Linked DNA regions of Homo sapiens: region 2 is linked to region 1. Evidence: fine-mapped expression QTL. A gene starts in region 1. The other region holds a variant in brackets. All regions are shown on one strand. Distances are from middle to middle. Region 1 holds the start of ESM1 (endothelial cell specific molecule 1). Region 2 holds the start of GZMK (granzyme K).

The links.
Region 2: its variant is fine-mapped to the expression of ESM1 in whole blood (TOPMed, PIP above 0.99).

What each region holds. Positions count from the first base shown.
Region 1 is chr5:54,977,731-54,993,942 of GRCh38, reverse strand. It overlaps ESM1 (endothelial cell specific molecule 1), which reads left to right and starts at 8,350. Exons shown (of 3, transcript NM_007036.5): 1 at 8,350-8,726; 2 at 11,797-11,946; 3 at 14,508-16,076. The coding sequence starts at 8,426. The coding sequence ends at 14,611.
Region 2 is chr5:55,009,585-55,025,796 of GRCh38, reverse strand. GZMK (granzyme K) reads right to left here and starts at 1,541. Exons shown (of 5, transcript NM_002104.3): 1 at 1,411-1,541; 2 at 990-1,137. The coding sequence starts at 1,474. It overlaps LOC102467081 (a long non-coding RNA gene), which reads left to right and starts at 1,628. Exons shown (of 3, transcript NR_104662.1): 1 at 1,628-1,868; 2 at 3,085-3,169; 3 at 4,275-4,498. The variant G/A (reference allele first, on the strand shown) is at 3,725.

The DNA of each region.
Region 1 (16,212 bases):
CAAAGTGTCCTTCAATATTCCCTGGTAAGATCAGATGCCCTGCATTTTCTTGTTTTTAGCATAGGTTCTTGTCCAAATATGGGATACTTGAAAATTTATGGCCTCATTTAAAGTTTTGTTATTTTAAATTAGTAAAATGAAGACATTAATGCTTAAAAAAATAGCCTGGGTCATCAAATTATCCATTTGTAATAACTCTGATCTCTCATAGACCAGCTTTCTAGACTAGGCCACATGAAGGTTGAAAATTTTATTTGCTGTCTGGAGAACACTCTGAATAGAGAAAGCTCAAAGCACCTTGGATTCCTTTCATTCTTCGGGTCATTGTTTGGTGTTTTATTCAATGAGTACTTCCTAAATATGTTTACAGAGGAAGACAGGCTCAGCATGTTATCTGTAAGTGGCAGTGTACGCTCAGACTCATGATATGCTGTTAGAAATGTTAGCTGAAGGGAGTATGTGTTTGTGCAATTTGAAACTGAGAGTAGAATATTAAACTTGGGTTTTTACAGCACATATATCTTACCACAAAATACCTCTAGTCAGATCAAGTTAGGATGATGTTTGTTAGGCAGCTTGTAAGAGTAAGGTCTTAGATTTCATCATGTAAAGTCCTAGTAGGAGATTAAAGATTGATAAAACAGAATACATTCTACTACTAGGTAAATTGATGACGGGTCAACAAAAATAAAAACAGATCTATCTATTTAGGCAACTATCATATTTCATTGCATCTAAGATGGCATCAGTGTGATATGTACCATTATTTTAAGTGTATCATTAAAGAAAAAAATTCTTCCAATTAATCTCTGATATAATGCTTTTGTAGCACTAGAATTTTTTTATTTTAATTTTTTATTTCCATGGATTTTTGGGGAACAAGTGGTGTTTGGTTACATGAGTAAGTTCTTTAGCAGTGATTTGTGAGATTTTGGTGCAGCCATCACCAGAGCAGTATACATTGTACCCAATTTGTAGCTTTTTATCCCTCACCCCCTTCCCACCCTTTCCCCTGAGTCCCCAAAGTCCATTGTATCATTCTTACGCCTTTGCATCCTCATAGCTTAGCTCTCACTTATAAGTGAGAACCTATGATATTTGGTTTTCCATTTCTGAATTACTTCACTTAGAATAATAGTCTTCAATCCCATGCAGGTTGCTGCGAATACTGTTAATTCATTCCTTTTTATGGCTGAGTAGTATTCCATTGTCTGTCTGTCTATCTATCTATCTATCTATCTATCTATCTATATCTATCTATCTATCTACCTATCTATCATTTCTATCTATCTATCTATCTATCTATCATCTATCTATCTATCTATCTATCTATCTATCTATCTATCTATCTATCATCTATCTATCTATCATCTATCTATCATCTATCATCTATCTATCTATCTATCTATCTATCATCTATCTGTCTATCATCTATCTATCTATCTATCTATCTATCTATCTATCTATCTATCTACCATAGCTTCTTTATCCACTCATTGATTGATGGGCATTTGGGCTGATTCCATATTTTTGCAATTGCAAAATGTGCAGCTGTAAACATGTGTGTAGCACTAGAATTTTTACTCATACTTATTGAAAGGACCCTTTTAGGGCTTATATGGACATAGATTTTTATAATTTAGAACTTTTGTACCTTCAAAAGAAAGAAAAATATAAACTCAACAAATTGGTTAAAATATTCCTAAAATGTCTCCACATTCGTATCTGATCCTCCTAAATCACATGTAAATGCCATCCATGTTTATTTCACATAGTATTGTCTTCTGGGTCATCAAAATCATTGATGATACAACATTTTTTAAAAGAGAACTCCACGATTGTCTTTAAGATTCTCTTCCCAGAGACTGGCACCCATCCTGCAAATTTTAATGTGCACATGTAGTCAGTGACAATTACATCATGATGATTACATCTCATCTTCATTGATGTTAACATGTGAAGATGTGTATTAGTGAAATAAGCTAAAAATTCATGAGCGTAATATAAATAAAAATCCTAGGTCAATCCCTCAGAGACAGACTTTTTCTGTCAGAAGTCTTCAGAGTAACGTTAAGTACTAATTCACTAACCTGAAGAGATGTGACTGGGAAAAACTGTTAGTTTAGAGGTTCCTCAAATTTTTGGGTTTGTCAGAATCAACTGGCTTATTTGTTAAGAATGTTAACTCCCAGACCTACCCCAACCCATCAGATTGGAATCCCTGGCTGTGGCATTTCTGACAAACTTCCCAGGACACTCTCATGCAGGTGGTGTGGAGAATTGTTTTGAGACACACTTGCTGAGACCCGTCACAGGCACCCTCAGCTGTGCTGCACTAAGCTCTCAGATCACAGGCTTGGAGACTTCATGAAGTCCGTGGCAGCCAAAAAAAAAAAAAAAAAAAGGCTTCATCAGGAACTGCCTAGGAAGAAAGAAGCCAAAATATTTTGACGCCAAATTAGAGTGAGTCTGAAACTGCCAAATCCTGAAAATGTCCTAAATAAGGGGCTTGGAAGTTATGTTTCTTATTTCTCTTCATCTAGTGGTTAACTTTTTTTTGAACATTCAATCATTTATTCAACTCACATGTCATATAAACGGCTAAGGCCATTTATCACTGGACAAACTGATGAGTTTGGTGAGGGTGGTCCTGATTAACATTTTATTACATTATAAAAGGGGTCAGTTTAAGGTTAGGCAAAGGAAATTTCATGTCATTAGAGAAGCAAAGTAGCAGAATCATTTCCTATGATTCTTGTGTTAATCAGAAATTCTATCTTTCTAAAATTCCTAGTGGAAATTCCAAATATCTTAGCAATAACTTCTAATATGACTTTAAAAATCTATGTTCTCTAGTTCTAGTGTCTAAATGACTTCCAATGCCTACAGTAATTCTTTAGTCATGTAGGAAACTGGTGACACTTTTAAAAACTCTTTTAGCAGAGAAGTTTAGTGAGCTGTTTAGTCATCCCATGCTTGGATGGGGCGAGGCAGGCTGCTAGGAGGGGTGGTGGAGTTTTCCTAAGGAAGAATGTTGAAACTCAGTCATCATGGTTTGCTGTGAATTAAGTGAATGAGAAACTAGACCATCTTGCAGAATGTGAGAGGAATGGAGGAATGCGTGAGACCTGAGAGAGCCACTGGTTTATTTTCTCTCATGGTTTAATTTGTCTTATAGAGTAAGTAATAATGTTTTACACCTGTACAGTAATTTAGTTGGCATCATGTTTTTAATCCACATTCTCCTTTGATCTCAACATCTCTTTGAGAAAGGGAAGGCATTTCTCTCCCTTATATTTTATTAAAAGAAAATGACTTAATGTTAATGAGGAGGCTGGTTGGTGCCTTACCCATAGCTGATTATGAAACTGGGATGCCAACCTACGTCTTCTGGTCCTGAGTTCAGAGCTACTTTTGCTACTCACATTGCTTCTCATGTCAGGGTGGCACATGGTGCTTCTGGATGTGGGTTCATATTTGCAGCTAGAGGGATGCTGTGTGAAACAGGAATCTCTTGCTGATGGAGTCCGAGATTCAGAACCTGATTTGAGAAGGAGCTAGCTGTTAGAAAGAAAAGCTTGCCTTGATGCCCCACATTAGAAACTGCCAGAACTGGGGGCAAAGAGGAGAAGAAGGCACCTCAGTGAGTAAGAGCTCTTCATGTTTCCAAGCCAGACTTCCTGGCTCTAAAAAAGTTCCTAGCAGCGTGAACCCAAAGTTGAAGTTTCTAGATTTGAACAGGGTTAAAAAACAACCTGACTCTGTGGCTGCTTCCTCAGAGGCTCCATTGGAGTAAAAATCTGGATATAGTGCCAAGTTCTCTGAGAGGTGCCCAGACATTCTGGGTTTGTAGCAGACACTGCGGGTGTCCTGTCCTTATCTTCTTGCAGTCACTCACACACCCTCACACTCAGGGCTCCTGCAGAGCTCTGTGTGATGGCACCCCAGCTGCCTACGAGGTTGACCTGCTCATCAAGACAAATCAGAGAGCCCCCATATGGGCAAGAAGCCTAATTAAAGCAGATGCATTTCACTTTGCTCTTCTAAGCAGGTGTAGTTTTTGAAAATTGCCTGTAAATCATATATTGGTACATTCAATTCCACTTTGCTATTAAAATTGTCTTTATTAAAAATAGAAACTTAAAGAATTAGAGAGATTTCTTTTGGGAAAATATTTGCTCCAAGACATAAGATCACATTTAAAGAATGAAGCCAATCTTCAGAAATCAGACGCTTGATAATAATAGTCACGATGGTTTCATATCTGTTGCCCTGTTTGGCCCTCTTATTATTGAGGTACTGAGGAGAAAGGAGAGGTCTAAGGTATGTGGCATGTGACTTGCCTAAGATCACATATCTTGGCAGTGGTAAAGCTGTTTCTAGGCAAACTGTACTCAGGGCAGGAGGCTCTGGGAAGATTCCTCAGGCCCTGGGCTTTGACAGCTGACCTGTGACTGCCGTGAATCCCAGCCAGTTTGGCAGAAGTATTTCACCAAGTTCTATTGGCTATGAGGGGCTCCCATGAACTTTCCAGGGTGGATGTGATATTGCCAAGCCCAAGGTCAACAGGACAAATTTGGTTAGCTGTGAAGGAACTGCCGCAATGGGACTACAGTCTTTGCTCAGGCTCCATCCAATCCTCGATGTCTCTTGGATTGGATGTGCTGTTTCTTGACACCTCTACCTCATTCCCACAAGTAAACACATTCTGCAGCTTAACCTAGCCTGCCCTAGAATCTGGGCCTCACTTTGCTTCTCCTGGTGGAAAGAGAAAGAAAGGGAACACATTGATGCCCGTTTAACTTACTATCATCTGAAGATGATTCTGGGAAACAGTTGGTTCCTTTTATGTGTTTATTAAGTATTAAGCTCCTGCTGTGGGCTAGACCTTGCAGTAGGCACATGCAAAATTGCTATCAGCTAGTGTCAAAGCAGGAAGACTTTCAGATGGTATCAAAAACCACAACCAAAACTAACCTAAAAACCAAATCACCTAAAATCTGCATGTAAATGTCTCCACTTGCTCCTCCAAACTTTATGCCCTCAAGTCTGCCTTTGTAATTCAATTTAAACCAGACTTCTCTGGTAGAGCTGGTTTGTTAGGAAGGCACAGTAAGTACGGTATAATTCGCTTTACCATAAACCACCTTCTGAGAGTCTGGGATCTGCCCAGAGCCTTTCCACTGGACTACTTTTACCTATCCAGAAAAAAATCCTTGTTATTTGGTTAGAAGCAATCATAATGTACAAAATAAACACAAAATATTAATGCACATTACCAAAGCTTATTTTCCTAACACAATACCAGCTTTAAGAAAAAAATCAAAGTGGCATTTTAAGTATACAGGGTATACTGGGTTAAATAGATATTTGGTTTTATCATTTCTCTGCCCCCATTGCAAAACACCATATGCTGCAACATTTGGATCCACAGATGGTATGGTTTGACCCACCTTAGTTTGAACTTACATTTTAGGAGTTGTGAAAATCTTGTGCAATTCCTCTTGCCCTTTCTCACTCTGACTTGACAACTGATATACAGGCAGAGCAAGATGAGAGATGTTCCAGTCCCCAGCACAAAGCAAGTGAAATGGGTGGACCTCATGCACTCACTATCAACAGCTCTGCCATCATCTTATTGCTTTTTAATGCAGCTTAGAGTTGGCTCCTTGGTTGCTCGTGCTCCCATTTCCTAACCCTTTGTGGTCATTGCTAACTTTCCTAATGGAATTCATTGATCTGGGCTCAAGGCTCTGGGGAAGACAGAAATCACTAGATAAAAATCTTACAGGGATTGTGTTGGGACAAATGGTTTTTGTTGGGTCTTGGAGGGATTGAAGGTTCCCCTAAAATGAGTTGTTAGGCACTGTGTATTGAGATAGTTCCACCACTGGTGAACTCTATTGGGCATATTTTCTGCACTTACCTGTGCATTGTAGTTTGGTTTACTATTTGGATTTGGTACTCTCAACTTACATTTGTTTAGTTGTCATTTACTGAAGGTATTATCAATTTGGTTTCCCTTTATCTTCCATAGTGGAAGAGTTTCATGTCTTTATGTGCTATTCAGGAGGACGAAATCCACTCCATTCCTTCTGTATTACATCTAGTATAGCTTACCATGTCACCCACCTTGGGCACCTGTTTGGCACCTGTATGTATTTGATTTTACAATCCTTAATCCAGTCTCCAGAGCTTGTTGGTCTCAGGGCTGGAGTCCTGGCTTCACCATTTGCTAACTGTGTGATGATGGACAAGTTACTTACCCTCTCTAGGCCTCAGTTTTCTCATATCTAAGATGGGGATAAGAATAGCACCTAGCTCTTGAGGTTGTTTTGAAAGTTAAATGTGGTAATCTACATAAACTGCTTAGCATGGCATCTGGCACACAGTCAGATCTCTGTAAAGGTTAGATATTATTATTAACCACTATTCCAGTTAACTACTCCTCAGAAAGTGGTGTTCAGTAACAAGGGACATTTTCTAGGGTCAGCCTAAATTGCGACCTAGGCCATTGGAACTATTGGCCATGAAAGCACAATTATGTATTGTAATAGGCAATAGAATATGTGGCTCTGACATTAGACTAACATCCATCCCTTCAATATAGGGACCTTAGGCAAATTAACCTCTTTCTTACTCAGTTTCTTCTTTTAAAAAATAAGCATGATAATAGCAGCCACTTCATAATATTGTGATGAGGTGCAAATGAGTTAATGCATGTAAAGTGTTTAAGCTATTAACTCAACAAATATTACCCATTACTGAAAACATCAGAGTGTGCCACCTGCTAAGTAAGTGCTTCTGGGGAGATAGAGTATTTCAAATTGGATTGTCATGAAAAATTTGGAAAATTTGAAAGCTAAAACTCTTGCTTTCATTTCCTACTGCCTCAATTCTCTGTATTCTGAATTTACTCCCTGTGTCCCCCTAAAATTGCATTTGCAAAAGCCGATCTTCAAGTTACATCCAATGCCCGCTCTGCCTCATCTTCTATGGGAAACAAGAATTTTAGAGGTCAGGTAGCCTAACACCATCAATTCTCAAAAGAGGAAGCTGAGGCCAAGAGAAGTCCTGTGAATTTCTTACAGCTCATTTGTGACAGACCAAGAATTACCCACTTTACTGGGTTGTTATTTACTAAGTGACAGTGAGTCTATATCTCTTTTGACAAGTGAGGTGGGGGCATGGAATTCGGCATGTGGTTGGTGTAAGAACTCCCCTCTCTCCTCTTTAACCTTACTTAATAAGACCCTGGCACAGTTGATATTTTAAGAGGGCTACTCTGTTTTCCCAGAGGGACCTAGGCACGGTAACCCTCTTAGCATGCAGACCTTGTTTCCTGAGGGGTAATGTTTCCCTTCCCTGTGACTTGTTTCTTGGGGGCTGTGTTCTGATTTTCCTGCTGAGCCACTTGTTGCCTTGGGCTGGCTGCCGCGCTTGGCAGTTTTTAGTGAGGGCTCTGATAGATGCCAGGAGGTGAGGGGAAGGGCTCTGGGTGGACTCCGTCATTGGACAAGCAGACTTAGTGATGGATGAGCCTTCCCCTGAGGAAGTTTTGGATCAGAAGTCCAACTGATAAGTTTTTCCAGAATTGAGTAACCCAGAAGCAGTGCCGAAAGGATCTTACCTCTCTTGTGGCTTTTTGTATTGATTTTAAAAGAAATTCTCAGAGGCAGTTCCACATTGTACTGGAAGCACAGCTATATCCACAATAGGCTTAGATATATGTAACATGAATTGCTTTAGAAATAACATTTGAGGAGAGGGGTGAGAGGAAGGAAGAGAGGGTCTTAAAAAATAGCCCTATCAAAATATTTTCTTTCTTCTAAGTATTGAAAAGACACAATATAACCCTTTCTTCTTTCAAATGATCTCATAGCTATTTGTTGAGGGGAAATACCAAATGTTTATTATTTTTTTTGAAGAAGCTTCTTCGGTCCTGATGATTCATGTTGATATCATTTTCCTCCTGACTACAGAGGCTCTGAGACAAAGCTACACCTCAAGTGATATGCCAGGGTCAGAACAATTCCCGTCCTGAAGGAGGGTGTGCAACCTTCTTTATCCCTCCTTCACAGACGTCCTTGAGCCCTTGAGACGGATGTGAGTGAGTTTTTCAGTCCTCATGCAAAACAACCATCTAAACATAACAGATGACATCAGCTTGGGCTTTTCAATTCCTGGATGGCAGCAGCGTGTTAATCCAGCCTTCATCCTGGATTTCATAAACCAAAACAAGAGAGCCTGGCAGGAGGACAGCGCTGCTGCTGGGTTGAGGAAATTGATGACGGGAAAGCATGCGGGCAACCCAGTGTATAAAACTCATAAACGTGTAGGCAGAGGCTCAGCTACCAGTTTGGACGGCTGCTTCCCACCAGCAAAGACCACGACTGGAGAGCCGAGCCGGAGGCAGCTGGGAAACATGAAGAGCGTCTTGCTGCTGACCACGCTCCTCGTGCCTGCACACCTGGTGGCCGCCTGGAGCAATAATTATGCGGTGGACTGCCCTCAACACTGTGACAGCAGTGAGTGCAAAAGCAGCCCGCGCTGCAAGAGGACAGTGCTCGACGACTGTGGCTGCTGCCGAGTGTGCGCTGCAGGGCGGGGAGAAACTTGCTACCGCACAGTCTCAGGCATGGATGGCATGAAGTGTGGCCCGGGGCTGAGGTGTCAGCCTTCTAATGGGGAGGATCCTTTTGGTGAAGAGTTTGGTATCTGCAAAGGTAAAGAGTGACCCCTTACCTCTCCCCTCCCGGGGCATGCTGAGAGCTTTTAGCCAGCTTGGGAGGTGAGGTGGCTTTGCTCCTCAAGAGTAAGAGGGAAAAGGCAGGTGGATTCTTGACAAGGCACCACACAGGTATTGTCATGGGTAGAGACTGAAGGATAGCTCCAAGTAGCAACTGAAACCAGTGTGCAGGAAGGCACAGAAAGAAGTGTGGCATTTTACTCGTTGCCTTAGGAGATCGCAAAAAGAAAGCTGCAATGGAAGATTGTGTTGGCTCCTTTTCTGGAAAACTTTAGAAACTTGACAGGTAATCTGTTAAGGATGGCTTAGGTGCTCTCTCCTCTGCGAGGCAGCGATTACAAAGGTCTGCACTAGATAACCTCTTGGAATGGTTTCTAGCCCCCAGATTTAGTGATTCTTTGATCTTGAAAGGGTCCACAGGATGGAGGGCCACTCTCAAGATCAAATATTTCTGATAAACACAAATGCACTTTATGGAATAGAGTGAGCTTAAGTCATCTAACAAAATAACTCACTCTTCAAAGAGGGTCCCCTGAAGCATAAAACAAACCTCATCTGACTTTATAAAGGTTTTGGTCATCTGGAAAAATAGCAGATGGTGTTAAGACAAGGAAAAATAACAATAGAGAAAAATAAAAACTGGAAGTCTGTAAAGAATGAGGTTGACCACTTGTACACTTAAAGAAAAACTTCGTCGGTTGAAATTTTAGCTAAATAATGTAGTTAAGCATTTGTAGAATTTATTTTAAACATAGTAACTAGTTTAAAATATTTAACATTTTAAAAATGTTTAGAATAAAAAGAATGATGATTTAAAAATACTCTACGTATAGATATCTCATGATCTTATTATGAAGAGCTATTATTAAGAAGCAACACATGCTATAACCCCATCCATCAGTTGTGTAATACCAGGAAGCTTTCAAAATTATAAAAAGGACTGAGAAATTTCTAAATAATTATTATGTTTTATGTATTTAATACATTTTTTATGAATAATATTTATCCAGTATTGTGCTAATCTCATTAATTCTCCTACTTCTTAGACATATAATGTATAAATTAATCATCTTTTAATTTGCAAGACATACAAAATTAAAAAAACAAATTCTTAAAGTATTAGGAGAGTTTTATTTTTTGCTTAGTTTATTTTTGTTTATATACAATAAGAAATAGAATATTGAGAAAATATTTTGTTTGGTGAACACATATGCATGTTTCTTTCAACTGAATAGGATCTGTATATTTTGTAAATTATGGGGCTTATTGACCAAGAAAACAGTACTTCACATAAGGAAATTAGGGAGGAAGTGGTTAACACAATCATACTTATGATATAGCATGTATATGCAGTGGATTGCTTTTTCTCTTGGCATAATATGCCTTTGTACATGTGATTGTAAATGTACATTACATATGGGCAAAGAAACAAGCTGTGTGGCATCTGGAGTCTTTAGCACTGTAGTATTCTACTGAATGATCAAGATACTAAAAAGATCTTTAAGATTGCTTCTTTTGGCTTTCTTCAGGTTGCTGATGAATCTAGTTTTAAGCATTTTTCTCTCTGCTGGAAATAGGAGACTTTGTGAGCCTTAGCAACTCGAGATAGAGATAATACATTTGGCAATCATCTCCCTTCTTCAGCTTTTTAAAAGAACATCCACGTGAAAACTGTAAACTTCAGCTGCGTATCCAAATGTCTTCTAAATATTCAGATGTCTGTGAACATCTTGCCCAGATTAACAATCAGCAGCCAACACATATTTAATGAACACTTACTATCTGCCCAGCACTGTTCAGTACATCAGGGGATACACTAGAAGTATCTCTGGGAATTTGGCTAAAGTTTTAGTTTTCAATATCGCTGCAGGCACAGTCAAATCCTAATCCTGTGTGCTTTTCTGGAACAGGCCTTTGCAGGATCCCTTTTTAAGATCTCTTCTTCCCAGCAAAGAGAACAGTGTTCAAAACCAGGTTCCTCTGTGATCTGAACCATATTGAAAAGAGCACTCATAGATCTCTTTAAAAAAAGATAGCTCATTGATGATCTACTTGGTCAGTTAGTGGAGTATTAGACTGCTAGAGACTCAGATGGCTCACAATTTGTTCTTTACCCACCTGTGATTGTACATTTACAAGGTATTTTCACAACAAGAGAATATTCTATATCTATTCTGCTGGCTTTTAAAGGTTGGTTAGTCTACTGAGATGCTGTTTATCCTAAAAACAGCATTTTAAATAATTTTATGCATTTTAAATAAACGACTTTGTCCTCTTTATTTCAATGTAGGATGTTTTGGCATAAGTGTAAGCACTGGAGGTCTAAAAGCTTCTAGTTCTTGGTAGGTGTACAAACCCTCAGGGTGTATAAGCCCTGAGCTTTCTTGCTCATTTAGCATCTTGCATGTTAGCCTTGCAGAGGATTTTACTAGGGAGCCCTCTTAACTACTGAGGGAGTCAGGCAAGTTGTATGACATGCCGTTTCGACAAATAAGGAACTTGATAAGGGTTGGAGCAGATGGAAGATTGATTGCTTCATGGTGAGCTAGGATGATAGCTCTCTCCCTGGTTAGTTTGAAGCCCTTTCCTATACACTTAAAATAGTAAATTATCTGTGAATACAGTAGATTCAAAGATAGCATCACATTTTAAAAACTCTTTGAGGAGCTGATGCATATATGTCTGTTCAATTTCCCACCTTTGCTGAGCTGTTACAGAGGTCATCTGTGAGAATTTATTGGTATCTAAGCAGAACATCACCAGAATGAAGACTGGTCCAAGGAGACTGGCTGTGTGTAGCTGTCTTCAACTTAACTTTACATCACAACACTAAGCCCGAGGCATCCATTATCTGTTCTTAATGTGTGATTTCATATTTATGACTCAAAGTTTCAACTTTCAAATCCTGGGTTTGGAGAATTGGATTTTACTTTACAGTCAAGGTTCATGAGGTTGGTTCAAATCGCAAGGCTATGCACCCAGGGCTGTTAGGATGGAGACGTATTTACAACAAGCAGCGTCCTCTCCAACCTTTCCTTTGTCCCCAGACTGTCCCTACGGCACCTTCGGGATGGATTGCAGAGAGACCTGCAACTGCCAGTCAGGCATCTGTGACAGGGGGACGGGAAAATGCCTGAAATTCCCCTTCTTCCAATATTCAGTAACCAAGTCTTCCAACAGATTTGTTTCTCTCACGGGTAAGCACTGATTCTGGTATAAGCATTGGAAGAATAGTCTCATTTCAGTGTGAATAACTTAGAAAATATCTGTGAGTAGAATAAGATGTGGATTGGAATGATTTTATTTCCTTTGCTTTACTCAGGGGAACGGTGGGTGGTAGCTGAGTTTGGTTGCTGTTGCTGTTTTCTAAAAAGAGCCCATCAATAATTTTGAGGTTTACATATAATTTCTCATAAAGTTTACCTGGTTTAAATATGATTTATAGGAGGATAAATATGATTGATTACCAAAAATCTGTAATAAAAAATAACCAACTGAGATACACAAAGTTCTTTAAATTCTTCAGTGATCTGTTTTATATATTTACTAGACAAAACTATTTATCTCCCAACTTCACATAGAAAAAGTACTGTGAGGAATTTATTGGATAAGCTTTAAGAGTCAAGATAGAAAATATAGAACGTTTCTTTTTTTTAACCAAATGAAAGCATTTAAGTGTAATAATTCCAAGTGTGTGTTTTTATGGATTTTGGAGAGGATAAGAAATAGTATGTGATTGAAATTTTGGAAATGAATGAAACTGTAGTAATACGTGCTGCTTGTTAGTCCGTGTGTATTTCTTATACAGGTGTTAGAATGTGAGGAATACACAACCTATGAGATGGTGCTATGTACATATTTGTTTATTTTGTTGAATAGCTGGCCAGTACAGGAGAGTTCCATTAAACTGAAAGTAGCTCATTTAAAGCAACATACATCACTAAAGCTTAGGCCTCCATTGCACAGAATGGCGATTGTAGTTAATAATTCTTATATATTTCAAAATTGGTAAAATAATAAATTTTAAATGTTCCCATCACAAAAAATAAGTATATGAGGTGATGGATATGCTACTTAGTTTGAGTTCATCATTCCACAGTGGAGATATATATCAAAGTATCATATTGTACCCTAAATGTATACAATTATTATTTGTCAATTAAAAACTGTATTTAAAATTATAAAAAATAAATAAATAATAAGCCCAACATATAGTCACAGAGATGGCTAGTATCAACAAATGATATACTTTTTCCCACCACAACTATAAATAACAATTCAAGTCCATTTTATTTAGTTTTTGCTTTTGGTCTTTTGCATTTCAAGTTAATAAAATATAAACTATTTGGCAAAGGTGCTTGTTTTCTAATTTTACCTCCTTCTTATGTATGGGTCAACTAAACACATTAAAATGAAGCGGAAATATCGTGCTTTTAAGTGAATTATTAGTTTTAAGTATGGTGATGCCCATAACAATACTTACATTATAGGTTACACAAAAATATTTCCACATCAAAGTTAGGCATTGAGATTCTTATCAGAAATATTTGAAAAAAGCAGTCAGTTTCTCTCTTTTCTGACCTAGGGTATTTCCTTTCATTAGCTAAAGGTGCAACCAGCAAAAGATGATTTTTAGTGTGATCTTGGTAAACCTTAGTCAGGTTCAGGATGGAGAGCAGAAAACCCTAAGGACCTCTTGGGGAGGCTGCCTAGGGTTCTTTGTAGTCTACATGTGTCTTTGAGACTACATGAGACTTCCAGGTTCATGCACTGGAGTTTACAGGAGAAGGCTTGGGCTTCACTCCTGACACAGGCTTCACATCACCTCTGCACAAACCTGTTTGGGCCCAGCCTTTGAGAGCAGGCTAAATGGCTGCAAGCTTCACCAGCACTAGGACCCCCAGAGCACGAGCTTGTCTTCTCCAACTTTCCACCTGCTGGCTACAGCACTCTTGTCAAATGTGCTTCCTGTCCACAGTGTTCCACTTGGTGTTCTTTTTTTTGGCAGTGAGCTTCCCAAGTTGGGAATTCACAAGTAAGTTTTTGTGTACGAGGGTCTTGGGGGAGTAAGATCTGGAATGTTTCATGGACTTACACACATTCGTCTGCTGGGCCACGCTAATCTTCTTAAAGCATTCCACATCAGAATGTGCACTGCCAAAGCAAGCACACCTCACTACTCCTTGAAGTAGAAAATTTCATTTTAGCAAATTTCAAATATTACAAACTTTTCTCATATGTAGAGTGAGAAGTGTCTTTATGAACGTTCTACCCATTGGTCTGCCTTTTGCCTTCTGGATGCAGCAAAAGTTAATCTGTCTTTCATACCAGTTAGTGTAAGAATCTAACTTGAGACCTGTTTGTACAACATTTGCCTATTCCATAAGTATTTATTAAGTGCCTACTATGTGGCAAGCACTGTCCTAAGTGCTGGAGATATAGCAGTGAGCAAAATAAAGTCCCTACCTTTGTGAAACTGGAATTCTAGTGGTGGAGTGAAATAATACACAGGAAAAAAAGACAAATACATGTAGAAGATAATGTCAGGTGACGATAGGTATACAAAGATAAGTAATTCAAGGGGTGCTATTGTATATAGAGGTGCTCACTGATATAGAGCAGTGAATACAGTTAGCATGGAATCTTAAATTGATTAAAGATTTCATTGTAAATTCCATGTAAAACAAAAATAAAGCAAAACTGTGTTGTCTTTGAGCTATAGATGTTTGGACATGATTTGTATTCCGTCTACTTTCAGAGCATGACATGGCATCTGGAGATGGCAATATTGTGAGAGAAGAAGTTGTGAAAGAGAATGCTGCCGGGTCTCCCGTAATGAGGAAATGGTTAAATCCACGCTGATCCCGGCTGTGATTTCTGAGAGAAGGCTCTATTTTCGTGATTGTTCAACACACAGCCAACATTTTAGGAACTTTCTAGATTATAGCATAAGGACATGTAATTTTTGAAGACCAAATGTGATGCATGGTGGATCCAGAAAACAAAAAGTAGGATACTTACAATCCATAACATCCATATGACTGAACACTTGTATGTGTTTGTTAAATATTCGAATGCATGTAGATTTGTTAAATGTGTGTGTATAGTAACACTGAAGAACTAAAAATGCAATTTAGGTAATCTTACGTGGAGACAGGTCAACCAAAGAGGGAGCTAGGCAAAGCTGAAGACCGCAGTGAGTCAAATTAGTTCTTTGACTTTGATGTACATTAATGTTGGGATATGGAATGAAGACTTAAGAGCAGGAGAAGATGGGGAGGGGGTGGGAGTGGGAAATAAAATATTTAGCCCTTCCTTGGTAGGTAGCTTCTCTAGAATTTAATTGTGCTTTTTTTTTTTTTTTTGGCTTTGGGAAAAGTCAAAATAAAACAACCAGAAAACCCCTGAAGGAAGTAAGATGTTTGAAGCTTATGGAAATTTGAGTAACAAACAGCTTTGAACTGAGAGCAATTTCAAAAGGCTGCTGATGTAGTTCCCGGGTTACCTGTATCTGAAGGACGGTTCTGGGGCATAGGAAACACATACACTTCCATAAATAGCTTTAACGTATGCCACCTCAGAGATAAATCTAAGAAGTATTTTACCCACTGGTGGTTTGTGTGTGTATGAAGGTAAATATTTATATATTTTTATAAATAAATGTGTTAGTGCAAGTCATCTTCCCTACCCATATTTATCATCCTCTTGAGGAAAGAAATCTAGTATTATTTGTTGAAAATGGTTAGAATAAAACTATGACTCTATAAGGTTTTCAAACATCTGAGGCATGATAAATTTATTATCCATAATTATAGTAATAATAACCTTAATAAGCATAAGAAAAACAGAGTCACTCTGGATTTCAAAAATGTCAAAAAATGAGCAACAGAGGGTCCTTATTTAAACATAAGTGCTGTGACTTAGGTGAATTTTCAATTTAAGGTAGAAAATAAGTTTTTAGGAGGTTTGTAAAAGAAGAATCAATTTTCAGCAGAAAACATGTCAACTTTAAAATATAGTTTATTTTCATATTTTTTTCTTTTAAACTTGGTTGATAAGTGGAATTAGGAGTATATTTGAAAGAATCTTAGCACAAACAGGACTGTTGTACTAGATGTTCTTAGGAAATATCTCAGAAGTATTTTATTTGAAGTGAAGAACTTATTTAAGAATTATTTCAGTATTTACCTGTATTTTATTCTTGAAGTTGGCCAACAGAGTTGTGAATGTGTGTGGGAAGGCCTTTGAATGTAAAGCTGCATAAGCTGTTAGGTTTTGTTTTAAAAGGACATGTTTATTATTGTTCAATAAAAAAGAACAAGATACAGCTTCTCTGTGTTGATTTGTGATTTTGTTAAATTGCTAAATGTTATTTTAACAATTCATTCAATAAATAAGAACTCTCATTCATATTAAAGGACAAGCTCTTCAACAGAATTTTCTGCTCTGGATAAGCCTCTTCT
Region 2 (16,212 bases), 32 kb before region 1:
GAAAAGCAAATCAATTCAATTGTTCTGTTTAGATATAGACAATGCCTGGAGAGCAAACCATTACAGCTAAGAGAGATCTTTAAGTGAAAGAAAAGGAGAAGGCTCCATTTCAGCTTATTAGGTAAGAAACATAAGGAAACATATATACAAACAAAAAACAAAACCAAAAACCCAAGCAAACAAACAAAACAACAAATACCAAATTAGTTTTCTACTGGCATTTCCTTTTGTGATGGTTGCAGCATCCCAAGAGGGGTTTTGTGCTTTATTAGCTGAAGTAAGAGAATCCTAGGCTGAAATGGACTTTGGAAGGTTTTACTCTGTCTTCAGAAAAGCTTTCATTCTAAGTATCCTAGAAAATAACTCTCTCATTATCTTTCTCTTTCTAGAAGTCATCAATAACTTGTTTTTTTCCACCTAGGAAAGTTGTAAGTGGTGAGTAGCTACTGTTAGGTAGCTACTGTTAGGAGTGGCAAAGTAGGCTTCTCATGCGTATAATACTAATGATAATAGCTGCAATTTTTTTGTGCTTACTAAATGTGCCAAGCATGCTAAAATACTTAAACAGATACTATTTAATTCTCAAAACCCACAAAGCAGGTATGATATGATTATTACCCCTTTGTAAAATGGGGAAGCTCAGAGCACAGAGCAAGCTCAGGTTGTCTGATTTCCTTTTGAGCAGTGTGATCTAACAAGGTCAAGAGTACTGCTGCTTCAAGTATTACTGTTGCTGTGTTCCCTGCATTATACAGAGGACTTGAATTTGTCTAATGTCTTGCCTGGGAAAAGCAGCTCAGTTCTCTCTGAAAAGGAAAACCCAAGACAGAAAGCGTGGATGTGGAAGAAGGTAAATAAACGCCACCAGTTGGTCAGTAACCACAGAAGCTAACAGTAGATCAAATTCTCATTCAGGAGAGGTAAGCTTCTCTTGTACCTATAATAACTTTCAGAAAAAACACATGTCTGGAAAAGTGTGGAGGACTCACCGATATTGGCAGTGGGCTGCTGTCAGCACCCACTGTGGATCAATCAGAACACCTCCACAAACGTGATGTCCGCCATACTGGATGGAGGCCATAAATGGCCTGGAATGAGGTGACACTTCTTTCCCTCCAATAATTTCCATATTGAAACCTACAAAAGTAGACCAAAAGGTTTCACACAAAAGATCTAAACTACTGTTTCATGTAATTCTTCCAATGACAGTCACTATATTATTTTCAAAGCTTAAAAAACAACAATAACCCTACCTAAAAGCTACAATAATTTTACTGATGAAAAATTTGTATAATACATTACAGTTCAGAAAGATAGGAATGATTGTGAAAATAATTTTCATCTATAATATAACAATATAGTCAGTAGAAATTCATTTAATGTTTACATGTAGATATAGGAGATACTTACACACATGAGTCATATAAGCCCCAACTATTAGGAAAAACAGAGAAAAGGAAGAAAACTTAGTCATTTTAAAGATTTAGATTTAAGAAGCCCAGATGAAATGTGTTGATCCTGTGATGAAGGAAGAAGATTCTGAAGACTGAGTTTTGTTCTTGTAAGTTTTGACTTTCTCACCACAGGTGCTCTAGGGGTAAGATTTTTTTTCACACCTAGGTGTAAACGTTATGTATCAGTTTGGGGACTTTCAGGTCTGTGCTTTTAGCACTTTTTTGTTTTGTTTTGTTTTGAGACGGAGTCTCTCTCTGTCGCCCAGGCTGGAGTGCAGTGGCGCGATCTCGGCTCACTGCAAGCTCTGCCTCCTGGGTTCACGCCATTCTCCTGCCTCAGCCTCCCGAGTAGCTGGGACTACAGGCGCCCACCACCACATCCGGCTAATTGCTTTTAGCACTTTTTTGGGAGAGGTATGTATGCCATAAAGAACTCATATCTGGAGATACCATCTCTAATACCTGTATCAGAGTACTTATGCTATAAAGAAAATTTATACTATATGTGTATATAATATTTATAAATGAAAAATATCCATGCCATAAGAATGTAATGAAGTTGCAGACAGAGTTCAAAGATGTCCATTGCTCTCAAGCAATACTTACTATTTTTCCTGGCACAAAATGGTGCCTATCATATTTCATTCTTCTCTCTTTTTCATTTGGACATAGATTTATGATGAAGAGAGACATGGACCTTGCACAGATTATGGTTACTTCACAATGTGGCTTAGCTAAAGCCTGAGCACCAACCAGAGAAAACCATATGTTTTGCAGCAAACATCCCTACTCATGTCGTTTCTCTAAGTTTGCCCAAATTTGGTTAAATTTTAGTTACATTTTTGTGAGATTTCATAATGTTGTTAAAGGTGAACATTGGCAACTATTTTTGATTCAGAGTCTCTCTTTTACTCATTTTTAATTGAAAATGGCCATGTGTTTTTCCAGGGACTTAATAATAATGTCTTTTAAAAATAAAGGACTGCATTTTGTAATTCTTCCCAGGAACAGATGACAATGCATTGCCAGGCCTTCAATACAAAAGGTATTAGACTCAAGATTCTACAAGATTCTGTTTGTGCCAGACACTGATCAGCAGTGCAAATATAAAATGAATACAAACAGATCACGCATCAGAATGCCAATCACTTCCTAGTAACACTGATCAAAATTTGCATTAAATCAACAGATCTTTCTTTTAAGAGGTATGCATTTTATCTTCCATTCATTTTAGAAAGGAGAATTAAAATCCAGAGCTATTATGCTCGGCAGATTGCAAGAGACTCCTTTCAAATTGTTTTCTAGCACAAAGAGTAGGAATAATAAAAAATAATACTATAATTATGTATTATTCATTATAACTTAATAATATATAAGTAAAATACCTTATTTCCAAAATTCTTTTTATATGATCATTTATGGTTTCATGTCTATGTCTTTGAGGAAAGCAGGACAACTTATGTTACAATGGAAGAAATAAGTTCCAAGAGGCTAAGTAATTTGCCCAAGGCAACACAGCTTATGACCTAGACCAAATCACCTGCCTGACCTCCCTGTATGTTAAGTTGTATGTGAATGAGTACCCTCCCAGAACACAGAATTTTATAAAAAACCTGCTTTCCTTGTACAGGTGTGTGGCAACAGTAAAGCTTTCTACATGTTAAACAGAATGAACAAAACCAACGCAGAGCAGTGACTTCCTGTCAGAGCAGAAGGTGAGATAAGGAGGAGCCAGATTAAGAAAAGCCACAAGCTTAATAAACCAAACTTATTACTCCCACTCAAATGTCCCTGTGAATTTTCAAGTCATCTTTGTCACTGTTGATGTACCTTGGATGCTCTACTGTGTGCCATTGTTCCACATTGGAAGGCAGACAGGATGGCGTCAGTTCCCTGCTACATCCCAGTGATGCTGGGATCGTAAGGAAGATGGTGTGTGACAGGTAGAAGTGATCCAAACTCTAAGGAAGAAATAAATTGTAAAGGACGAAGCTTTGTGTGTGTGTGTGTGTGTGTGTGTGGCGGGGGAAATGGGAATGGTTACAAACATCTCTCAGCTGCTTATTTCTGAGTAGTAAGGATTAATGTCCACATAGCGTTGTACAAATTGCTGAACGTTTTTAGCTGTATTTCCAGGGAAGTGGTTGTCATTAGTCTTGTTTTATGGATAAATAAACTGAAATTCAGGGACTTGCTTGAGATTACCGAGCTAGCAGGTGGCCCTTAAGCTCCTATGTGCTGGCTCCCGGCTCTATGTTCCTTTCAACCTG[G/A]CTACATGCCTGCCTCCTTTGAGAAGTCCCTGGGGGTTTAGGGGCTCTGAGACACAAGCTAGCTGTGCAGAAGAGAAAAAGGATTTAGCCATACACACTGCGTGTAATTAGACATGGGTGAGATTTAGTTCAGTTGGGAAGAGTCTCATAACTCTTTCTTGTAGCTGACCTAGAAAATTCTGAGAATCATGTTGGTTAATAGTAATGAGTTATTTGGTTTTGGCTTTAGACCGATTTGCCAGTTAATAGTATCATTTGTTATTATATTCACGATTCTGGATTTGAGAACAGTGGGCTGTGTAACATGATGAGCTCGGCGATCTAATTTATTTCTGGGTGTTGGTTTTTGTTCTGTTGAGTCTGCTGCAGGGAGGGCCATGTTTGCTTTGGATGGCTTTACAGCAACTGTACCGGACTGAGCAAGTGCAAGGCTGTGCTCAGAGGAGGGCTGGCTTCACACGTCATAGCCTTGTGGCTCTTCTTTGCTGTGTTTAGCTGTCTTTCTTGCTGCTCTTAGAGATGTTTTGTTTCTGCTTCTCCTGTGTTTCAGGAGACCCTTATAGAACAGCTGTGCCACTGCTCCAAAGGCCTCGTGTGGTTCTATCCCTTGGACTGCCTTTCTTCAACAGCCCAGACACCTGCTCTGTCAGATTTATAAGCCACACCCCCTAGAGCCATGCCAATCAAAGCATGGCCCGCAGACCTGTGCCAGTCTCCGAACCTCTTTGTTACCGATTTGGAGCAAGATGGGGACAGAAATTGAGAGCCAGAGTTTAGAAACTGTAACAGCGACTTAACATGGCACTGTATTAATTTATTTTATTAATGAAATAAAATTTGTCCAATCTAATAAAAATTGGGTGTGTATTTTGTATGCCTTTGTTTTTTATTTAATTACTTTTTTCTATTTATTTGTGTTGTATAAACGTATCAGTTCACAATGGGCTGAAACTAAAAACAAACAAATTAACAAACTAAAACTCCAAACACATTGGTCTTTCCCACAGGTAGTCTGAGAAACACTGCTCTGTAGACATAAGTGCAAAGCAGATTTGTTTCAAGCTCTTCCCATTTATTCCCTTTTACATTCCTTTGAAAAATGTTCTCAATATCAAGTTTTCCCAAGCTATCCAACCATCCCCAGCCCTTGGCACTTGACATCAGGATTTGGCAGAATTTCACTGGATCCCTCCCTTGTAGCCCACCACCCTTCAGGCCTTGACTTCTGTCCAGTAATGGCTTAGCTAATTTGGTAAATGTATCTGCTAACACCCATAGTGAAACTATGGCAGCTTTGAAAATTGGGCTTGGGAAGGATATTGGGGTGCTATATAATGATATTAAGTCCGAAGTTCTCAAGAAAATGTAAATCTCACCTCAGATTACAGCCATCCCTCCCACTAGGTCCTTAAAATGAATGAGCTTAAGGGCAGTTGGCAAGGAAAGCAAAGTACCCCTCAACTCAGAGCTGGGGCTGTAATAAGGGTTGGGGCACCTGGAATACTGCCTTTTCCTAAGCAACTTAAATGTAAATACTTCAGAGGGCTGCTCTAGGGCCTCTTCTTGGTGGAATGATGGTGGTGGCAAAGGTGAGATTGAGGGAAATTTGTTTTGTCTTCCTCTATCTCAACTTTAAATCAGAATATATTTTGCATGTTAAATCTTCCTTTCATAAATATGAAGATACGTTTTCTAAACCATCATTATTGAGTTAAGTCACACAATAGTACTTCAACTTCCTTTTCCTTTACTCCTCTCCACGTCAGCTATGAAGTGACTGGAATGGATGAGAATTGCCTTAAGTGCAGGATCCTCACATATGGAGTAATCAGGAAAATACCTTGAGGACTTGGCAAATAGGGATGTCCCAGCACTGCTGGTGCTGGCTGCCTGGTCATACACTGTCCCTATCTCAACTTTGTCTCCAGGCCTTACACTGCCCTTTTATGACTCCTTTTTCTTTTCTTCTTTAGAGCAGGCTTTGATGTTCATTTTAACTAAGTTCAAATGTTATGGGTGGGATGAGGAAAGTGCCACATGGGGTGGTCCCTGTGATGTCGCTGGACTCAAGACAGATCACTCACATTGTCCGCAATTACTTGTCCTGAAAGATTTGCACATGTGGAAATCCTTTCAACAGTAATGACTGCCAAAGGAAGGTTTTCAGCTCCAGGCTCGTAGGTACCCTTGCCTTGCACAGAGGAAGGTGAGGACTATATGAGCCTACCAGTATTATAGGGAGAAAACGGGTAAATATGTAGGCCAAGTTAAGGGAAAAATACCAGAGAAGGACCAGGTAATAAAGACCAGAGGAAAGGTGGAGGCAGGAAGGGAGGGAAGAAAATAAATACTGTTGAATAAAGAAGGAAAAATGATCAATTGAGGATGGGAGGCCTTATAATGGAACACTTCCATTTATATTTGAACATCTCAGATACACTACTGTGATACAGTACTGTGCCCCAAAGCCAAATATGTTATCATTGTTTTACAATAGAAACAGATACATTACAAGAAATAATCTCATCATGCTGAAAGCAATTAAATTGTTTAACTAGTCAGGATGATTTTACAAAATAAACGAAGTCACAGCAGGCAAAGTAGTAGGAATTTCAAAATGAACGACCACATTCATTAATGAGGGAAACACAGTAATTGCTATGGTCAAGCTGGAACACAGCAAGTGTTATCGATTGATTCAGTATTCACTAATTTTCCATTGAGAATCAATTCAAGTAGAAATCTAGATATGATATACTTTTTCCAAAAAGTGACCAAACAACACACACACATACACACACACACATACAACCTTCCCCTCCCACCCTTTTTTCTATTAGGAAATGAAATAATTATATACACTAAATGAGATGGTAAATTAAAAATAATGTTTAAGAGAGGAAGGCATAAAGGAAACTATCAATAAGTTAGAGCATAGAAGACTTTTGTAAGGTAGAAAATACCATAGGCAATATCCAAAGACATATGGCAAAATGCTTGTCACTTACATTGAAAGCATTTCCCCCCAAAGACAATATCTTTAATATATGAAGGGTCCTTATAAATAAATTTAACAATAAGTGGGCTCAATGTGAGCAAATCAATATGAAGACAAATAAAACAGTATTTTAGTTAAACTACCTCACTAGGGACCTGGTATATAAATGATATTTAGAAATAATTTTGATGACTATTACAGGATAAATAATGAAGCACATTTTACATTTTTGCAAGGCTTAATAAACATAAGTTTGATATGCTAAGAACACAACTGCTATAGCAAGTATTTGATAAAAAGGCTGCAGGCTGAGAAGAGATTATCAACAAAAGCATAATCTTCTAAATTTTTTTTTGAGAAGTTACCAAGTATCTTCTTTATTATTTTTAATTAATGAATGAATTAGTTTATAAATTTATACCACATTCAACTTATTCTACTAGGTATAAGCAAATCACATTGAGAATTACAAAAATTCCAGATGCATAGATCGTTCACAGACTATATATACTCCAGTAGGAAATATGAAGGACTTAAGTTGTTAACCATAATACCACATAAGGACAATATGAATGGGAATATTCAGTGCATTAGTTATGTTACAGAAATATGTGCAAATAAGTTTAAAATTAAGGCTTTGATGTAAATATTATAGAAAATACAATCATATATTTGAATTGCTAGTTACACTAGATAATCCCAAACTATATTCTTTTTTTTGTAATTTTTTTTATTATACTTTAAGTTCTAGGGTACATGTGCACAACATGCAGGTTTGTTACATATGTATACATGAGCCATGTTGGTGTGCTGCACCCATTAACTCGTCATTTACATTAGGTATATCTCCTAATGCTTTCCCTTCCCCCTCCCCCCACCGCACAACAGGCCCCTGTGTGTGATGTTCCCCTTCCTGTGTCCAAGTGTTCTCATTGTTCAATTCCCACCTATGAGTGAGAATATGCGGTGTTTGGTTTTCTGTCCTTGCAATAGTTTGCTGAGAATGATGGTTTCCAGCTTCATCCATGTCCCTACAAATGACCTGAACTCATCCTTTTTTTATGGCTGCATAGTATTCCATGGTGTATATGTGCCACATTTTCTTAATCCGGTCTATCATTGATGGACATTTGGGCTGGTTCCAAGTCTTTGCTATTGTGAATAGTGCCGCAATAAACATACGTGTGCATGTGTCTTTATAGCAGCATGATTTATAATCCTTTGTGTATATACGCAGTAATGGGATGGCTGGGTCAAATGGTATCTCTAATTTTAGATCCTTGGGGAATCGCCACACTGTCTTCCACAATGGTTGAACTAGTTTACAGTCCCACCAACAGTGCAAAAGTGTTCCTATTTCTCCACATCCTCTCCAGCACCTGTTGTTTCCTGACTTTCTAATGATCGCCATTCTAACTGGTGTGAGATGATATCTCATTGTGGTTTTGATTTGCATTTCTCTGATGGCCAGTGATGATAAGCATTTTTTCATGTGTCTTTTGGCTGCATAAATGTCTTCTTTTGAGAAGTGTCTGTTCATATCCTTTGCCCACTTTTTGATGGGGTTTTTTTTTCTTGTAAATTTGTTTGAGTTCATTGTAGATTCTGAATATTAGCCCTTTGTCAGATGAGTAGGTTGCAAAAATTTTCTCCCATTCTGTAGGTTGCCTGTTCACTCTGATGGTAGTTTCTTTTGCTGTGCAGCTCTTTAGTTTAATTAAATCCCATTTGTCAATTTTGGCTTTTGATGCCATTGCTTTTGGTGTTTTAGTCATGAAGTCCTTGCCCATGCCTATGTCCTGAATGGTATTGCCTAGGTTTTCTTCTAGAGTTTTCATGGTTTTAGGTCTAACATTTAAGTCTTTAATCCATCTTGAATTAATTTTTGTATAAGGTGTAAGGAAGGGATCCAGTTTCAGCTTTCTACATATGACTAGCCAGTTTTCCCAGCACCATTTATTAAACAGGGAATCCTTTCCCATTTCTTGTTTTTGTCACATTCATCAAAGATCAGATGGTTGTAGATGTGTCGTATTATTTCTGAGGCCTCTGTTCTGTCCCATTAGTCTTTATCTCTGTTTTGGTACCAGTACCATGCTGTTTTGGTTACTGTAGCCTTGTAGTATAGTTTGAAGTCAGGTAGCGTGATGCCTCCAGCTTTTTTTTTTTGGCTTAGGACCGTCTTGGCAATGCAGGCTCTTTTTTGGTTCCATATGAACTTTAAAGTAGTTTTTTCCAATTCTGTGAAGAAAGTCATTGGTAGCTTGATGGGGATGGCATTGAATCTATAAATTACCTTGGGCAGTATGGCCATTTTCACAATATTGATTCTTCCTATCCATGAGCATGGAATGTTCTTCCATTTGTTTGTATCCTCTTTTATTTCATTGAGCAGTGGTTTGTAGTTCTCCTTGAAGAGGTCCTTCACATCTGTTGTGAGTTGGATTCCTAGATATTTTATTCTCTTTGAAGCAATTGTGAATGGGAGTTCACTCATGATTTGACTCTCTATTTGTCTGTTATTGGTGTATAGGAACGCTTGTGACTTTTGCACATTGATTTTGTATCCTGAGACTTTGCTAACGTTGCTCATTAGCTTAAGGAGATTTTGGGCTGAGACAATGGGGTTTTCTAAATATGTAATCACGTCATCTGCAAACAGAGACAATTTGACTTCCTCTTTTCCTAATTGAATACCCTTTATTTCTTTCTCCTACCTGATTGCCCTGGGCAGAACTTCCAACACTATGTTGAATAGGAGTGGTGAGAGAGGGCATCCCTGTCTTGTGCCAGTTTTCAAAGGGAATTCTTCCAGTTTTTGTCCATTCAGTAAGATATTGGCTGTGGGTTTGTCATAAATAGCTCTTATTATTTTGAGATACGTCCCATGAATACGTAATTTATTGAGAGTTTTTAGCATGAATGGCTGTTGAATTTTGTCAAAGACCTTTTCTGCATCTATAGAGATAATCATGTGGTTTTTGTCTTTGGTTCTGTTTATATGCTGGATTATGTTTATTGATTTTTGTATGTTGAACCAGCCTTGCATCCCAGGGATGAAGCCCACTTAATCATGGTGGGTAAGCTTTTTGATGTGCTGCTGGAGTTGGTTTGTCAGTATTTTATTGAGGATTTTTGCATTGATGTTCATCAGAGATATTGGTCTAAAATTGTTTTTTTGTTGTGTCTCTGCCAGGCTTTGATATCAGGATGATGCTGGCCTCATAACATGAGTTAGGGAGGATTCCCTCTTTTTCTATTGATTGGAATAGTTTCAGAAGGAATGGTACCAGCTCCTCCTTGTACCTCTGGTAGAATTTGGCTGTGAATCCGTCTGGTCCTGAACTTTTTTTGATTGGTAAGCTATTAATTATTGCCTCAATTTCTGAACTTGTTATTGGTCTATTCAAGGATTCAACTTCTTCCTGATTTAGTCTTGTGAGGGTGTATGTGTCCAGGAATTTATCCATTTCTTCTAGATTTTATAGTTTATTTGCATAGAGGTGTTTATAGTAGTCTCTGATGGAAGTTTGTATTCCTGTGGGATCGGTGGTGATATCCCCTTTATCATTTTTTATTGCATCTATTTGATTCTTCTCTATTTTCTTCTTTATAAGTCTTGCTAGTGGTCTATCAATTTTGTTGATCTTTTCAAAAAACCAGCTCCTAGATTCATTGATTTCTTGAAGGGTTTTTTGTGTTTCTATCTCCTTCAGTTCTTCTCTGATCTTAGTTATTTCTTGCCTTCTGCTAGCTTCTGAACGTGTTTGCTCTTGCTTCTCTAGTTCTTTTAATTGTGATGCTAGGGTGTCAATTTTAGATCTTTCCTGCTTTCTCTTGTGGGCATTTAGTGCTATAAATTTCCCTCTACAAACTGATTTAAATGTGTCCCAGAGATTCTGATATGTTGTGTCTTCGTTCTCATTGGTTTGAAAGAACATCTTTATTTCTGCCTTCATTTCGTTATTTACCCAGTAGTCATTCAGGAGCAGGTTGTTCAGTTTCCATGTAGTTGTTTGGTTTTGAGTGAGTTTCTTAATCCTGAGTTCTAGTTTGGTTGCACTGTGGTCTGAAAGACAGTTTGTTATAATTTCTGTTCTTTTACATTTGTTGAGGCATGCTTTACTTCCAACTATGTGGTCAATTTTGGAATAAGAGCAATGTGGTGTTGAGAAAAATGTATATTCTGTTGATTTGGGGTGGAGAGTTCTGTAGATGTCTGTTAGGTCCGCTTAGTGCAGAGCTGAGTTCAATTCCTGGATATCCTTGTTAACTTTCTGTCTTGTTGATCTGTTTAATGTTGATAGTGGGGTGTTAAAGCCTCTCATTATTATTGTGTGGGAGTCTAAGTCTCTTTGTAGATCTCTAAGGACTTGCTTTATGAATCTGGGTGCTCCTTTATTGGGTGCATATATATTTAAGATATTTAGCTCTTCTTGTTGAAATGATCCCTTTACCATTATGTAATGGCCTTCTTTGTCTCTTTTGATCTTTGTTGGTTTAAAGTCTGTTTTATCTGAGACTAGGATTGCAACCCCTGCCTTTTTTTGCTTTCCATTTGCTTGGTACATCTTTCTCCATCCCTTTATTTTGAGTCTATGTGTGTCTCTGCAAGTGAGATGGGTCTCCTGAATACAGCACACTGATGGGTCTTGACTCTTTATCCAACTTGCCAGTCTGTGTCTTTTAATTGGAACATTTAGCCCATTTACATTTAAGGTTAATATTGTTATGTGTGAATTTGATCTTGTCATTATGATGTTAGCTGGTTATTTTGCTCATTAGTTGATGCAGTTTCTTCCTAGCATTGATAAGTCTTTACAATTTGTAATGTTTTTACGTTACATGCTTTCTTCCAGTTGATCAAATCAGCTACTGAAGCTTGTGCATTCATCACATAGTTCTCATGCCATGGTTTTCAGCTCCATCAGGTCATTTAAGGACTTCTCAACACCGGTTATTCCAGTTAGCCGTTTGTCTAATCTTTTTTCAAGGTTTTCAGCTTCTTTGCATTGGGTTTGAACTTCCTCCTTTAGCTCGGAGAAGTTTGATCGTCTGAAGCCTTCTTCTCTCAACTCATCAAAGTCATTCTCCATCCAGCTTTATTCCTTTGCTGGTGAGGAGCTGTGTTCCTTTGGAGGGGGAGATGTGCTCTGATTTTTAGAATTTTCAGCTTTTCTGCTCTGTTTTTCCCCCATCTTTGTGGTTTTATCTACCTCTGGTCTTTGATGATGGTGACATACAGATGGGGTTTTGGTGTGGATGTCCTTTCTGTTTGTTAGTTTTCCTTCTACAGTCAGGATCCTCAGCTGCAAGTCTGTTGGAGTTTGCTGGAGGTCCACTCCAGACCCTGTTTGCCTGGGTATCAGCAGCGGAGGCTGCAGAACAGCAAATATTGCTGAACAGTAAATGTTGCTTCCTGATCATTCCTCTGGAAGGTTCGTCTCAGAGGGGTACCCAGCTGTGTGAGGTGTCAATCTGCCCCTACTGGGGGGTGCCTCCCAGTTAGGCTACTCAAGGGTCAGGGACCCACTTGAGGAGGCAGTCTCTCTGTTCTCAGATCTCAAACTCCATGCTGGGAGAACCACTACTCTCTTCAAAGCTGTCAGACAGGGACATTTAAGTCTGCAGAGGTTTCTGCTGCCTTTTGTTTGACTATGCCCTGCCCCCAGAGGTGGAGTCTACAGAGGCAGGCCTCCTTGAGCTGCAGTGGGATCCACCCAGTTTGAGCTTCCTGGCCTCTTTGTTTACCTACTGAAGCCTCAGCAATGGTGGGCGCCCCTCCCCCGAGCCTCGCTGCTGCCTTGCAGTTCAATCTCAGACTGCTGTGCTAGCAATGAGTGAGGCTCCATGGGCGTGGGACCCTCCGAGCCAGGTACGGGATATAATCTCCTGGTGTGCCATTTGCTAAGACCATTGGAAAAGTGCAATATTAGGGTGGGAGTGACCCGATTTTCCAGGTGCCGTTTGTCACCCCTTCCCTTGGCTAGGAAAGGGAATTCCCTGACCCCTTGCTCTCCTTGGGTGAGGCGATGCCTCCTCACCCTGCTTCAGCTCACACTCAGTGGGCTGCACCCACTGTCCTTCCCCAACTGTCAGACGAGCCCCAGTGAGATGAACCCAGTACCTCAGTTGGAAATGCAGAAATCACCCATCTTCTTTGTTGCTCACACTGGGAGCTGTAGACTGGAGCTGTTCCTATTTGGCCATTTTGGAACTGCCCTTCAGTCTTCTAAATTTTTAATGTTGGTTGATGAGTCAGTTGATTGAATAATCTGTACAACAAACCCCTATGACACAAGTTTACCTATGTAACAAATCTGCACTTGTAACCCTGAACTTAAAATAAAGGTTAAAAAAAAGAATAAAAAGACCAGAACAAGACTGAACTTTGTTTAAATTCGTCTATGTCTGTTCTTGTACCAGTACCATGCTGTTTTGGTTACTGTAGGCCTGTAGCATAGTTTGAAGTCAGGTAGTGTGATGCCGCCAGCTTTGTTCTTTTTGCTTAGTGTTGCCTTGGCTATTCAGGCTCTTTTTTTGGTTCTATATGAATTTTAAAATAGTTTTTACTAGTTCTGTGAAGAATGTCAATGACAGTTTAATGGGAATAGCACTGAATCCATAAATTTCTTTGGGCAGTATAGGCTTTTTAATGGTAAATGATATTGATTCTTCCTGTCCTCCAGGTATTAAGCCTAGAACTCATTGGTTGTTTTTCCTGATCCTCCCACCCTCCACCCTCTGAAAGGCCCGAGTGTGTGCTGTTCTCCTCTGTGTGTCCATGTGTTCTCATCATTTTGTTCCCACTTACAAATCAGAACATGTGGTATTTGGTTTTATGTTCTTGTAGTTTGCTAAGAATAATGGCCTCCAGCTCCATCCATGTCTTTGCAAAGGACATGATCTCGTTTTTTTATGGCTGCATAGTACTTCATGGTGTATATATATCACATTTTATTTTTCCAGTCTATCATTGATGGACATTTAGGTTGACTCCATGTCTTTGCTCTTGTGAATAGTGCTGCAACAAACATATGTGTGCACATGTCTTTATAACAGAATGATTTATATTTCTTTGGGTATATACCCAGTAATGGAATGGTTGGGTAGAATGGTTATCCCAGCACCATTTATTGAAAAGGGAATCCTTTCCCCACTGTTTGTTTTTGTCAGCTTTGTTGAAGATCAGATGGTTGTAGGTGTGTAGCCTTATTTCTGGGCTTTCTATTTTATTTCACTGTCTATGTGTCTGTTTTTATAACAGTACCATGCTGCTTTGGTTACTGTAGCCCTGTAATATAATTTGAAGTTGGATAGCATGACACCTCCAGCTTTGTTCTTTTTGCTTAAGATTGCCTTGGCAATTCAGGCTCTTTGTTGGTTCCATATGAATTTTAAAATAGTTTTTTTCTAGTTCTGTGAAGAATGTCATTTGTAGTTTGACAGGAATAGCATTGAATCTATAAATTGCATTATAAAATTAAATCTATAAATGGCAGTATGGTCATCTTAATGATATTGATTCTTCTTGTTTATGAGCATGAAATATTTTTCCATTTGTTTTTGTCATTTCTGATTTATTTGAGCAGTATTTTGTAGCTCTTCTTGTAGAGATCTTCACCTCCCTGGTTAGCTGTATTCCTAGGTATTTTATTATTTTTGTGGCAATTGTGAATCAAAGTTTGTTCGTGATTTGGCTCTTGACTTGTTTGTTTTTGGTGTATAGGAATGATAGTGATTTTTGCACATCAGTTTTGTATCCTGAGACTTTGCTAAAGTTATTTATCTGCTTAAGAAGCTTTTGGGCTGAGATGATGGGGTTTTCTAGATATAGGATCCTGTTATCTGCAAATAGGGATAGTTGGACTTCCTCTCTTCCTATTTGAATGCTGTTTATTTTTCTTGCCTGATTGCCCTGGCCAGAACTTCCAATACTATGTTGAATAGGAGTGGTGAGAGAGGACATCCTTGTTTTGTGCTGGTTTTCAAGGAGAATGCTTCCAGCGTTTGCCCATTCAGTATGATGTTGGCTGTGGGTTTCTCATATATGGCTGTTATTATTTTTGAGGTATGTTCCTTTAATACCTAGTTTATTGAGAGTTTTTAACATGAATGGATGTTGAATTTTATTAAAAGCCTTTTCTGTATCTGTGGGGATAATCATGTGGTTTTTGTCTTTAGTTCTGTTTATGTGATGAATCACATTTATTGATTTGCATATGTTGAACCAACCTTGCTTCCTGGGGATGAAGCCTTCTTGATTGTGGTGGATAAGCTTTTTGATGTGCTGCTGGATTCAGTTTGTCAGTATTTTGTTGAGGATTTTTTGCATCAGTGTTCATCAAGGATATTGGCTTGAAGTTTTTGTTTGTTTGTTTGTTTGTTTCCATCTCTGTCAAGTTTTGGTATCAGGATGATGCTGGCCTCGTAGAATGAGTTGGGGAGGAGTTCCTCCTTTTCAATTTTTTAGAATAGTTTCAGTAGGAATGGTACCAGTTCTTCTTTGTACATCTGGTGGAATTCAGCTGTGAATTCATTTTGTCCTGGCCTTTTTTTGGTTGGTAGGCTATTTATTACTGCCTCAATTTCAGAACTCATTATTGGTCTGTTCAGGGATTCAGTTTCTTCCTGGTTCAGTCTTGGGATGGTGTATGTGTCCAGGAATTTATCCAATTCTTCTAGATTTGATGGCTTATGTGCCCAGAAGTGTTTATAACATTCTTGGATAGTTGTTTGCATTTCTGTGGGGTCAGGGGTAACATTCCCCTTTTCATTTCTCATTGTGTTTATTTAAATCTTCTCTCTTTTCTTCTTTATTAGTCTAGCTAGTGGGCTATCTATTTTATTATTTTTTTCAAAAGACCGGCTCCTGATTCACTGGTCTTTTGAATGTTTTTTCATGTCTCTATCTCCTTCAGTTCAGCTCTGATTTTGGTTATTTCTTGTCTTCTGCTGGCTTTGAGGTTTGTTTGCTCTTGGTTCTCTAGTTCTTTTAGTTGTGATGTTAGGTTGTTAACTTGAGATCTTTCTAACATTTTGATGTGGGCATTTAGTGCTATAAATTTCCCTATTAACACCGTGTTAGCTGTCCCAAAGATTCTGGTATGTTGAATCTTTTTTATCATTAGTTTCAAAGAACTTGATTTCTGCCTTAATTTCATTATTTACCCAAATGTCTTTCAGGAGTACTTTATTCAATTTCTATGTAATTGTATGGTTTTAAGTGAATTTCTTAGTCTTGAGTTCTAATTTGCTTGCACTGCTGTCTGAGAGACTGTTTGTTATGATTTCAGTTCTTTTGCATTTGCTGAGGAGTGTTTTACCTCTGATTATGTGATCAATTTTAGAGTAAGTGCCATGTGGTCATAAGAAGAATGTATATTCTCTTGTTTTTGGGTGGAGAGTTCTATAGATGTCTATCAAGTCTGCCTGACCCAGAGCTGAGTTCAGGTCCTAAATATCTTTGTCTAATATTGTCAGTGGGATG